Linked DNA regions of Homo sapiens. The protein of the gene in region 1 purifies or fractionates together with the protein of each later gene. This does not show direct contact. Each region holds a gene or a part of one and is shown on either strand. Other genes may lie near its edges. The genes, in order: SYF2, CDC40 and CCDC12.

Region 1 (3,653 bases):
GTCTTGAACTTCTGACCTCAGGTGATCCACCTGCCTCAGCCTCCCAAAGTGCTAGGATTACAAGCGTGATCCACTGCACCTGGCCAATTTAATAGTAATGCCAAATAAAGTCTACTTAAGTGCCACTATAGTATGGTCTCCAATACTGCAAAACCTTGTTCTGATCCAATAAAAAGGGACCACACAACTCAATAGAGGCAAAGCTGATTTTAACCTCCAGGGCTCTGGAACAGCAAACCAGTGCAACTCAACACATTTTTCTTGACTGCATAAAAACGTAGACCCTATTAGGCTATTCCCTGGCTTAAAATCCTGTGATGGCTCTCTATTGCTTTTAGGATAAAATGGGGTCAGCTTATTAATATGTCCTGCCTGACCCTCCTCAAAGAAGGCAAGGTGTATCTGGATTTATTTTCATGTTTTAGCTGACAGACTTCTTGTGTTACGGTTTTAGAATGAAGCTCGTAAATTAAATCACCAGGAAGTTGTGGAAGAAGATAAAAGACTAAAATTACCTGCAAATTGGGAAGCCAAAAAAGCTCGTTTGGAGTGGGAACTAAAGGAAGAGGAAAAGAAAAAGGTTAGGAACTATTCTATCTTCATAAGTGATTTAGTCAATCATTCTGTTGTATCAAGACACTACAACATGGTGGTTGTATACACTGGCTCTTAGGCCAAGCTGCCAGAATTGAAATTCTGGCTCTGCTCAGTACCAACTGCAACACGTTGGGTGAGTTTATTTAACTTCTCTGTACCTCTGTTTTCTCATCAATAAAACAGGGACTGTAACAATAATTATTTGAGTTCATTATGAATTAAGTGAGTTAATGCATGTAAAACATTTAAAACAAGGTCTGACACCTGATAAACACTCAATAAGTATCATGTGCTCACTTATATACCATAGTATATTCCCAAATTTCCTTTAAATGCTATTAAAGTGGCCGGGTGCAGTGGCTCATGCCTGTAATCCCAGCACTTTTGGGAGGCCGAGGCTGGCAGATCATTTGAGGTCAGGAATTTGAGACCAGCATGGCCAACATGGTGAAACCCCATCTCTACTAAAAATACAAAAATTAGCCGGGCATGGTGGCATGTGCCTGTAGTCCCAGCTACTTGGGAGGCTAAGAGATGAGAATCCCTTGAACCTGGGAGGTGGAGGTTGCAGTGAGCTGAGATCGCGCCACTGCACTCCAGCCTGCGTGACAGAGTGAGTGAAACTCCAACTAAAAAAATACTATTAAAGTATTGGTTGATATTTATTGGATCTTTCTTGATGTAAAGTAGATCAAATTATTGCATGTATCATAATTGTAGGTGTCAGCTTTTTTCTTCTTTTTAGGAATGTGCGGCAAGAGGAGAAGACTATGAGAAAGTGAAGTTGCTGGAGATCAGTGCAGAAGATGCAGAAAGATGGGAGAGGAAAAAGAAGAGGAAAAACCCTGATCTGGGATTTTCAGGTCAGATTGACCTTTATTGAACCTTATTGACTGGGCTGTTAGTCATTTCCTTCATTGTTTCTGGTTTCAAGAAAGGATGTGCCTCTTGTGCTTCGTGGGATATTCTTGATGAGGCTTAAGACCAAGAAAAGTACAAATATGTCTCTTAGGAGAGAAGTTAAAAAAAAAGGCTGTACTTCAGTTAGCCAGGTTTTTAAATACTTGATGATAAAATTTATCAAAGTCTGTTTGTCAGCATCTTCAGGATAGAAGCTATGCTTAGAATAGTGTTATGGGCATATATTACTTCACACAGATTGAGTATCCCTAGTATGAAAATCTGAAATCCCAAATGTTGCAAAATCCAAAACTGTTTGAATGCCAACATGGTGCTATGATGCTCAAAGGAAATGCTGATTGGAGCATTTCAGATTTTGAATTTAAGTATAATAAAGATATTCCAAAATCTGAAAAAAATCAGAAACACTTCCGATTCCAAGCGTTTTGGATAAAAGATACTCACCTGTGATAATTTAGATTTTTCTCTCAATAGGAAGGTCCAAACAAGGAAATATATTATCGCTGATTCTCATTTTATATTTTTAGATTATGCTGCTGCCCAGTTACGCCAGTATCATCGGTTGACCAAGCAGATCAAACCTGACATGGAAACATATGAGAGACTGAGAGAAAAACAGTAAGTCCTTTTTCAACCTGAGGTGATGTGGATGTATTTGTGTGTGTGTGTGTGTATACATGTACATAAATAGAAACATGCTTTAATGCTAAGGTATGGGTTATTAATAGTTGTCTAAGGATGGTCTCTGTTTTTTCTGGATATTTTTTTCCTTTGAGATGGAGTCTTGCTTTCTCACCCAGGCTGGAGTGCAGTGAATGGTGCGGTCTCAGCTCACTGCAACCTCCGCCACCTGGGTTCAAGCAATTCTTCTGCCTCAGCCTCCTGAGTAGCTGGGATTACAGGCGCCCGCCACCACGCCCAACTAATTTTTGTAGTTTTAGCTGAGATGGGGTTTCACCACGTTGGCCAGGCTGGTCTTGAACTCCTGACCTCAAGTGATCCGTCCACCTCAGCCTCCCAAAGTGCTGGGATTACAGGCGTGAGCTACTGCGCCCGGCCCTTCCTTTTTTTTTTTTTAAGAGACGGTGTCTCGCTCTGTTGCTTAAGCTGGAGTGCATTGACACTGTCATAACTCACTGTAACCTCAAACTTGTGGCCTCAAGGGATCCTCCCACATCAGCCTCCCCAGTAGCTAGGATTACAGACATGTGCCACGATTCCTGGCTAATTAATTTTTTTGTGGAGACGGGGTCTCACTGTGTTGCTCAGGCTGTCTCAAACTCCTGGCCTCAAGTGATCCTCCATCCTTGGCCTCCCACATGGTTGAGATTACAGGTGTGAGCCACTGTGCCAGGCCTAGTCTCTGTTTTGACAGCACTGTTTATTGCTTACTTCACAGCTATTAAATTAATCACATGTTTTTTGTTTTGTTCTTAACTGGGCATTCTAAGACTGGTTGTTGATTGGTTAACACCCTGATTGTCGTAGTTACTTAGATATTATTTTAGGAGGCAGAATGCTTTAGTGCTGGGGTTGGTGAACTTTTTCTGTGAAGGACCAGATAGTAAATATTTTAGCTTTGTGGGCCATATAGTCTCTGTCACAGCTATTCAGCTGTGCTGCTGCAGTGCAAAAGCAGCTGCAGAGAATTCATAAATGAAGCCTCTTTTCATAAACAGGTGGTGGGCTGCTGTAGTTTGGCAGCTTGTTTTAGTGGAAAAGGAAATAACCTCAGGATGGAGCTCTAATCCCAGCTCTGTTCCTAGCACTTTGTGACCTCTGATAAGTCCTGGAGCCTCTCTGCCTGTTGGCTCTTTGATCTGTACAGTGAAGGTGTTGGCGTAGATGATGTCTTAGGTTCCTTTCAATTCTGTAATTTTTTATTTTTTATTTTTATTTTTATTTTTTTTTTGAGATAGAATCTCGCTCTGTCGCCCAGGCTGGAGTGCAGTGGTGCAATCTTGACTCACTGCAGCCTCCGCCTCCTGGGTTCAAGTGATTCTTCTGCCAAGTAGCTGGGACTACAGGTGCCCGCCACCACGCCTGGCTAATTTTTTTGTATTTTTAGTAGAGATGGGGTTTCACCATGTTGGCCAGGCTGGTCTTGAACTCCTGACCTCAGGTGATGTGCCCAC
Region 2 (3,653 bases), on another chromosome or scaffold:
TTAAACTTACCTCATGTCTGGTGAAAAGTCCACCTGACAAGCATAGCCTGCTACCATATGGCCCTTAAAAATTTTTTTCTTATTTAATCTAAATCTGTTCTGTGCTCCAAAAATTAAGATTTGGTTGTCCATTGATTGGCATGCTAGCCATTTTCCTGTAAATTCAATAAATGAGGTATTTTAGAGGAAGACTAAAACAATTTTTAAAACTTTTTATTTTAAATATGTTCACTGTGATTAATATAAGTTTTGCTCCCAAATACTTTATAATACTAAAAAATAAATTTACTATACCACCTGTAAAATGTTATAAATATGTCACTGGCAAGAGGTATTAATATATAAACTAATGGCTTTTGCATATACGATCCTATATCATTGAGCACTCTCATATAAAAGTTTTTAAAAAAATAAGGAAATATAGAAATTCCAAGCTTAATGTTAAAGAAATAAGCTAAAAGTTGTGAAATGAAATTAATTTATAGTAAGTATAGACAACAGAACTATGGGAAATAGGAGAAAGAGACTTATCTGTGGTAATTACAGAATAAAGAAAGATTAAGGGGTGAGAAAGCCTAGGGTTATTAAATAAAACTATACAAAAAAAGATATATTAAAAATTATAGTAACTTTTTAAAAGGCTACAATGCTTTTCTCTACTTAGGATTCATCAAAGCCCCTAGAGCCTAAACTGCAGCGTCTATAGTCATGCACCACTTAACAATGTTTTGGTCAATGATGGACCGCACGTATGACAGTGGTCCCATAAGATTATAGTGCTAAATTTTAACTGTACCTTTTCTATGCTGAGATTTTACTGTACCTTTTCTATGTTTAGATACACAAATGCTTACCACTGACTACATTATTCAGAACAGCAACATGCCATACAGGGGTAAAGCCTAGGAGCAACAGGCTATACCATACAGCCTAGGGTAAGTAGACTATACCATCTAGGTTTGTGTAAGTACTCTGTGTGATGTTCACAAAATGACAAAATCACCTAACACTGCATTTCTCAGAAGTACCCTTGTTGTTAGGAATGCATGACTATACTTGCATCCTATATATAGTCATCCCTTGGTATCTGTTGGGAATTGGTTCCAGGATCTGCACCCCTACCCAATACCAAAATTCACAGATGCTCAAGTCCCTTATATAAAATGGCATAGTATTTGCATATAACCTACATATCTCCTGTATACATTAAATCACCTCTCGATTACTTATAATGCCTAATGCAACGTAAATGCTTTGTACCTAGTTGTTATGCTGTGTTGTTTTTAATTGTTGTATTGTTATTTTTTATTGTTTATTTTGTTGAATATTCTGGATTCGTGCTGGTTGAATCCCAGGATATGGTGCTCATGGATACAAAGGGCCAACTGTACATGTAAACATTACTTACTAAGGAAACAGACTTAAATAATGCCTGAGTGGGTAAATGGCCTTGTTCAAGATGGGCACAAAATCTGTAATAGGTGGTTTAAAAATACGCTACATGAAATATAGATGCACAGTGACGAAGTATATAATCTAGCAATGATCAAAAAAAGGTTCAGTTAGGTTTCTCTTCTCATAAAAATGATAGAGCATTTGACAACTATTACCATTTGCTTGTGTCAGAGGCCCTGATGGAACAGCAAATTCTTCCTTGCCCTACACTTGGAGTTAATTATGTGAATTGACAGTGGTTTCAATGACAAGGTCCCCCAAACATCAGAACTCCCACTTTAAGACTCTCATGTAAAGCTATAATTACATCAGTATATTGTCAGTATATCTGTAGCACAAATTATCTTGTACGTAAAAGACAATGGATTAAACAATATTAAATAGATTTATCTTCTTAATTTTTGCCTGAGAAAATCTTTTATAGTGAATTGCTAAAGTGTTCTCTCATTATGGAGAATCAGACCAAAACTTCCTATCCCCTGAAAGAGTTTACAGTAAATCACTATTACTATTTTTTTTTTTAGAGAGAAGGGTCTTGCTCTGTTGCCCAGGCTGGAGTACAGTCACATGATCATAGTCAATCTCCTGGCTCAACCAAACTGCCCATCTCAGCCTGACCAAGTAGCTAGGGCTACAAATGTGCACCACCATGCCAGCTGATTTTTAAAATTTTATTTTGTAGAGATGAGGTCTCTCTATGTTGCCCAGGCTAGTCTCAAACTCTTGGGTTCAAGTGATTCTTCTGCCTTGGCCAAATCATTATTAAATGATTTACTGAACGTGATTCTGTTTGGAAGGAGAATTAGAAAAGAAAACTCTGGCCGGGCATAGTGGCTTAGGCCTGTAATCCCAGCACCTTGGGAGGCTGAGGAGGGAAGATCACTTGAGCCCAGGAGTTTGAGACTAGCCTGGGCAACAAAGGGAGACCCTGTCTCGAAAAGAAGAAAAGAAAAGAAAAGAGGGGAGGGGAGAGGAGAGGAGGGGAGAGGAGGGGAAAAGAAAAAAGAAAAGAAAACTGATTGTTAAATAAAAATCTGATGTTCAATCAATGTTAGCTGTAAATCATTGTTTCTTTTATTTTTATTTAAAAAGAGACACAGAAAAGTAGGTGAGGTGACTTGCATATGAAAACCAGTAATTCTTTCTAATATTGTAAAGATTACCTTATACAAATAATGGCACAGTGACAAACTTCCCCAAGAAGGAAGGGGCCAAAGTTCTTTTGAATAAAGAAATCACACTGTATCTTAGAAGCTCATTTAAAAATACAATCTACATACTAACTCACCATTTGGAGACAAAGTCACTGCAGGCATTGAGTGCATACTGGGTTCTGCTATGTACTTGAAATCCACAGGGATATCCCTAAAAATTTTAAATAGCATATCAGAATAAGCAACTTTTAAAAAGTACCTTCAGAATTATCTCTGGAACAAAGGAATAATATGCAAATAAAAGCAAACTCTTGATATTATATATTTAATAAATCTTTCATGAAACTTTCTGGAAGAAGAAAAATCACAAGATGACACTGTACTGCTTATGGTAAATCCTGTACTTCATAAATCACTTTCCATGATCATTATAACAGTGGTGGTGATTTTGTTTTCTATTTCATTTAAACTTTGGCCTTTATGTTAAAAAATCTGTTACTGAAAGAAAGTTCTTTAATAATGTACCATGGTGATGGATACACTAAAATCTCAGAATTCACCACTATATAATTCATCCATGTAACCAAAACCCACTTTTACTCCAAAAGCTGTTGAAATAAAACCAAAAATTAAATTAAAAATGTACCATGGTAGGGTGAAGCAAGATGTCTGAGGTAAGCCTATGGGGAAGTGTTATTTACTGGCTAGCCTACCTTAACTTGAGGAGGTGAGAGTGTTAAACAGCCTGCAGCAATGCAGGTGGATGGCAGGCAAAGCTGTAGGGATCTGTGAGCTGATCTAGCCCATCCAGAAATGATGATAAATGATGATAAATAAATGCTTGGTACCTGGACTATCTTCAGTTTACATGTAAAGCATTTCAAATGTGTTTGGTGAAGGAGAAAAAACATAAAAAAAAAAAAAAAACCTCATGTGAGTGATGAAAGAATGAAAAAAAAATTAAAAAGTAGCCACCTAAATTTAGAACCATCAAAAGTTCTAAGTGCCTTTTCATTTTTAATATTCTCCATGCTAAAAATTCTT
Region 3 (3,653 bases), on another chromosome or scaffold:
ATCCTTTATTATGTGATTACCTCTGTTAGGTCAGCCTGCCTGTGGACAAACTGACGCAGGGCGTGTGTGCACATGCACAAATTCGTGTGACCACACCTGGGGCCCAGGGCATGGACTGAGAGGCCCCAAGACAGAGCTGTCGTGGGTCTCCCTGCATGCCAGGGTTGGCACTCCAGAAGGTGACAATGCTCACTTCACTATGGCAGCGTCCTGCCTTTGACTCTCGCAGAGCAGTGTTCTAAGAGAGATCTGTGAGCTCCTTCCATTGGGAGCCTGCTCTGGTGGACACAGAATGCGCTGGAGCCTGCATATAAATTATAAGTAAAACAGCTACTTGAACTACCTTTCCTAGACATTTATTTATGCCATTGACAACTGCCTTCCTAAGAATGGTATCTGCTTTATGTGGAGACTGCAGGCATCAACCAGACCCTGCCATTCCTTGGCCACACAACCTCCGGGGAGCAGACTACCAAAACCAGGTCGGAGGCCTGGCCCAGAGAAAGGCTTCTGTCATGAGAACAGATCAACATGCCCCCCACCCCAACTCAGGGCAGCTCATCTCATGGCAACGAGGCAGCGAGAACAAAATAACTGACCAAGTGACAGCAGCTACACGAGAGAGGTCAACATGGAACGTGGTTCTTGGGCGATGGGTGAGAGGTTTCCTACTGAGAGATGGGCTGGGCAGAATTGGGTGATACAGCATAGGGGGAGAGAAGTGGGAAGGGCATTCCCGGTGGGAAGCAGAGCTTGAACAAAGGCAGGGTGTGGTCTGAAGAGCATGCAGGTGACTGGGGTTGGGGGAGGGGGTGACAATGATTGCCAGGTAAGACAGTCAAGGCAGGCAATGGCCGAACACAGAGGGCTCTGGCCGGTGTTCTTAAGCAATGGAGAAACCGAGGAGAGACTGGAGAGAGTTCACTGACCTCTGCTGGGGAAGGCAGGCCCTGGGGTGGACAGGCAGATGCTTGGTGATGGCCAAAGAGGGAAGGGAGAACAGAGTATAAATGCTTCACTGAGAAACAAGTCAGGATTCTCCAAATGGCTCCCAGGGCTGCTGGGACCTGGACGGGGCTTCCACAAGGGCCCTGCTGACACATGCAGCCCTCCCTGACTAAAGACTAGCCGATGAAGCAAGCCAGAGCCTGCAAATTCTAGCAAAAAATTCCTTCCCAACTCCCAACCAGCGGACACCCTGAAGGCTACTCCCTGCAGTGCCTACCTCAGGGGAAGGAGCGGCAGACACCTGCCCTGGGTAAGGGCAGAGAAGGAAAAGCAGAAAGGGCTCTTCTTTCCCCACACTGGGCTAGTGGGGCAAGACCCCCAGCCACAAAGACGACTCCTTTCCACAGGGGTTCTGTTAACCCGAACCACCTGGCAGAAGTAGGTGGGGACTACGGGAAAGTGTCCAGCCTTTGGGAGGAGTGCTTTGCAAATACCATGCCCTTTCTCGGCTCTCAAGCAAGGTCAAACAGCTGTCACCACCCTCCTGGAGCCCCAGAGACATTCAAGTGCCTCAGCAAAGGCCAAGTTATTCATTAATAAATGAGAAAACACCCAACTATCTAAATGACTTTTAAAAATGCCCAGCAATCTGGTGGGTGGGGGGCAGCACTAGCTCTGCAGACAGCATGAGGTTAAAAATGACCCCAGCCTGGGATGCTGTGCAAAGAGCAGGGGCTCAAAAAAGATAAAGATCCACATCTGTGGCAGGAGCAGGTGAACAAATGAACAGGCCACACAAGTGGGGGAGATAAGGTGTACCTCAGCCTTCCTGACAAAGAGTGATTCATAAATAGGACAATGGGCATTCACGGGAAGGAAAATCGCTTTTGGTGACACTGGCCTGAATCACAAGATAAGGCCCTTTGCTGCCCGGGATAGTGGAGGGAAGCGCAGACCACTTGAAGCTCACCCCTACCTGAGAGACTCAAAGAGCCTCAGACCTGGAGGGCTCGCAGGATCACCCATTCTAGGTCCTCAGTTTAAGCCATGGGAAAACCTGGGAAATGGCAGTCAGGGAAAAGGAAAAGATTTGTCCAAAGTCACAGAACCCATCAGCGGTAGCTGCAAGTCTGGATCCAGGTCGTCCTGATGCCTGGCCCTCAGTCTTGCCAAGGAGACGAGAGAGAGGCTATCAAGAGTGGAAGAGTGGCGCTGAGTTTCTAAAGAGCTCTGATTCTACCCGCCTCTCCTGCGCTCCCCACACAGTTCAGACCTGGTCCCATGTGCTCAGATGCGGCCACAGCCAGCCCAAGTCCAAGCCTAGGCCCTGCTGGACACTCAGTAGGAAAGCAGGCAAGGCCCTAGGTGCACAGCCTCCCCAGGAATTTAGAGACACTTCGCTCACCCTGAGACCTTTAAATCAGACTCAATGCCTCACCACCCCCACTCCCCACTCAATACCCTTCCCAAATCTTGCCATCTTCTCCCTCCTTCCCAATCCCTAGTCTCGTCTACCACCTCCTTAGCTCCCCACCACAACCAAGCCCCCAGCCATTCCCCTCCACCCCTGCCTGCCAGCCAGCCTTCCCCTCTACTCTGGAGAATACAGCTGCCTCCTGCATTTTTCCCTCTCTTTCTCCAACCTGTCTCCCCTAAGTCTCTCTTCAACTTATCAATCCACATTCCTGGCCTCCTCTTCAAAGATACTGGTCAGACCACACTGCACCTCCGCTCAAAGCTCTCACTGGGTCTCCACACCCCCAGGACAACAGCCATTCATCTCGACCTCACATCTGCTCTGTCCAGAACACTCTTACACCCCACATTTTGTCTCAAATCCTGAAATATCTACTCTGATAACCCCCAAGAAAACACACCATCTGGCCAGTCCTAAAGGCCAGGCCAAAGGCCACCTCCTCAAAGCAGCCTTCTAAGATTCCCAGGCAAAAGAATCCTCTGGGCCTACCCAGTGCATATCAGGGTCTGACCGTAGGCCCAGGGCACAGGCCTGTGGCCATTCCTATTCACATGTAGGCTTTACTACCCCTTCCCTTCAAGAACCTCTCAGCACGGGGCATCTCCTAGAGCACCTCAAGGCCTAGCCCAGAGCCTGGGCTAGACAACCTTCAGAAATGCTACCAATTTAACTGCTACCCTCTCCACCAACTCCAGAAGAGTAAACCTCAGGAACGCTGATGGCTGGAGGGCAGGAGAGTCATGGTCTGGGCTGGGGCCCTCCCCATAGCCTATCTGCCTATTAATGGAGGTACTCCCCCATTTCTCACCCCTGCCCACATCTCCACACCTAGACCTTGCACCCCTGCCCTCACCTCCTCCCAGAGCCTTCAGCAGGAAGAAGCCTTTGAGGCAGGATTTCAGGGGGTCTCAAATACAGCCCTGCTCAGGACAGAGTCTGACTGACCTGTTTCCTAATGTTTGAAATCCTTTTTATCAGGGACAAAACTGTTACAAATAAAATTAGAGCTGTGCAAAGTTGGTATTGTTTCTTCCTTAAATGTTCAACAAGACTTCAGTGAAGCAATCTTGGCCTGAAGTTTTATTTGGGAAAATATTTGTTATAGGACTGTATAGATTTTCTATTTCTTCTCCAGCCAGTGTTATTAATTTATGTCTTTCAAGATGTCTGTTTCACCTAAGTTATTGAATTTACTGGCACAAAGTGACTTATATTGTTCTCTTAATAG

What was found.
Region 2: the proteins of SYF2 (region 1) and CDC40 purify together in Homo sapiens (affinity purification with mass spectrometry; 2 studies listed by BioGRID and IntAct, with this or other methods). This does not show direct contact.
Region 3: the proteins of SYF2 (region 1) and CCDC12 purify together in Homo sapiens (co-immunoprecipitation; 3 studies listed by BioGRID and IntAct, with this or other methods). This does not show direct contact.

What each region holds. Positions count from the first base shown.
Region 1 is NC_000001.11:25,225,925-25,229,577, reverse strand, and holds part of SYF2 (pre-mRNA-splicing factor SYF2), read left to right. Parts: intron 1-454; coding exon 455-580; intron 581-1,342; coding exon 1,343-1,460; intron 1,461-2,045; coding exon 2,046-2,136; intron 2,137-3,653. UniProt on the Homo sapiens protein: Involved in pre-mRNA splicing as component of the spliceosome.
Region 2 is NC_000006.12:110,225,334-110,228,986, reverse strand, and holds part of CDC40 (pre-mRNA-processing factor 17), read right to left. Parts: intron 2,821-3,653; coding exon 2,744-2,820; intron 156-2,743; coding exon 11-155; intron 1-10. UniProt on the Homo sapiens protein: Required for pre-mRNA splicing as component of the activated spliceosome. Plays an important role in embryonic brain development; this function does not require proline isomerization.
Region 3 is NC_000003.12:46,942,161-46,945,813, forward strand, and holds part of CCDC12 (coiled-coil domain-containing protein 12), read right to left. Parts: intron 1-3,653.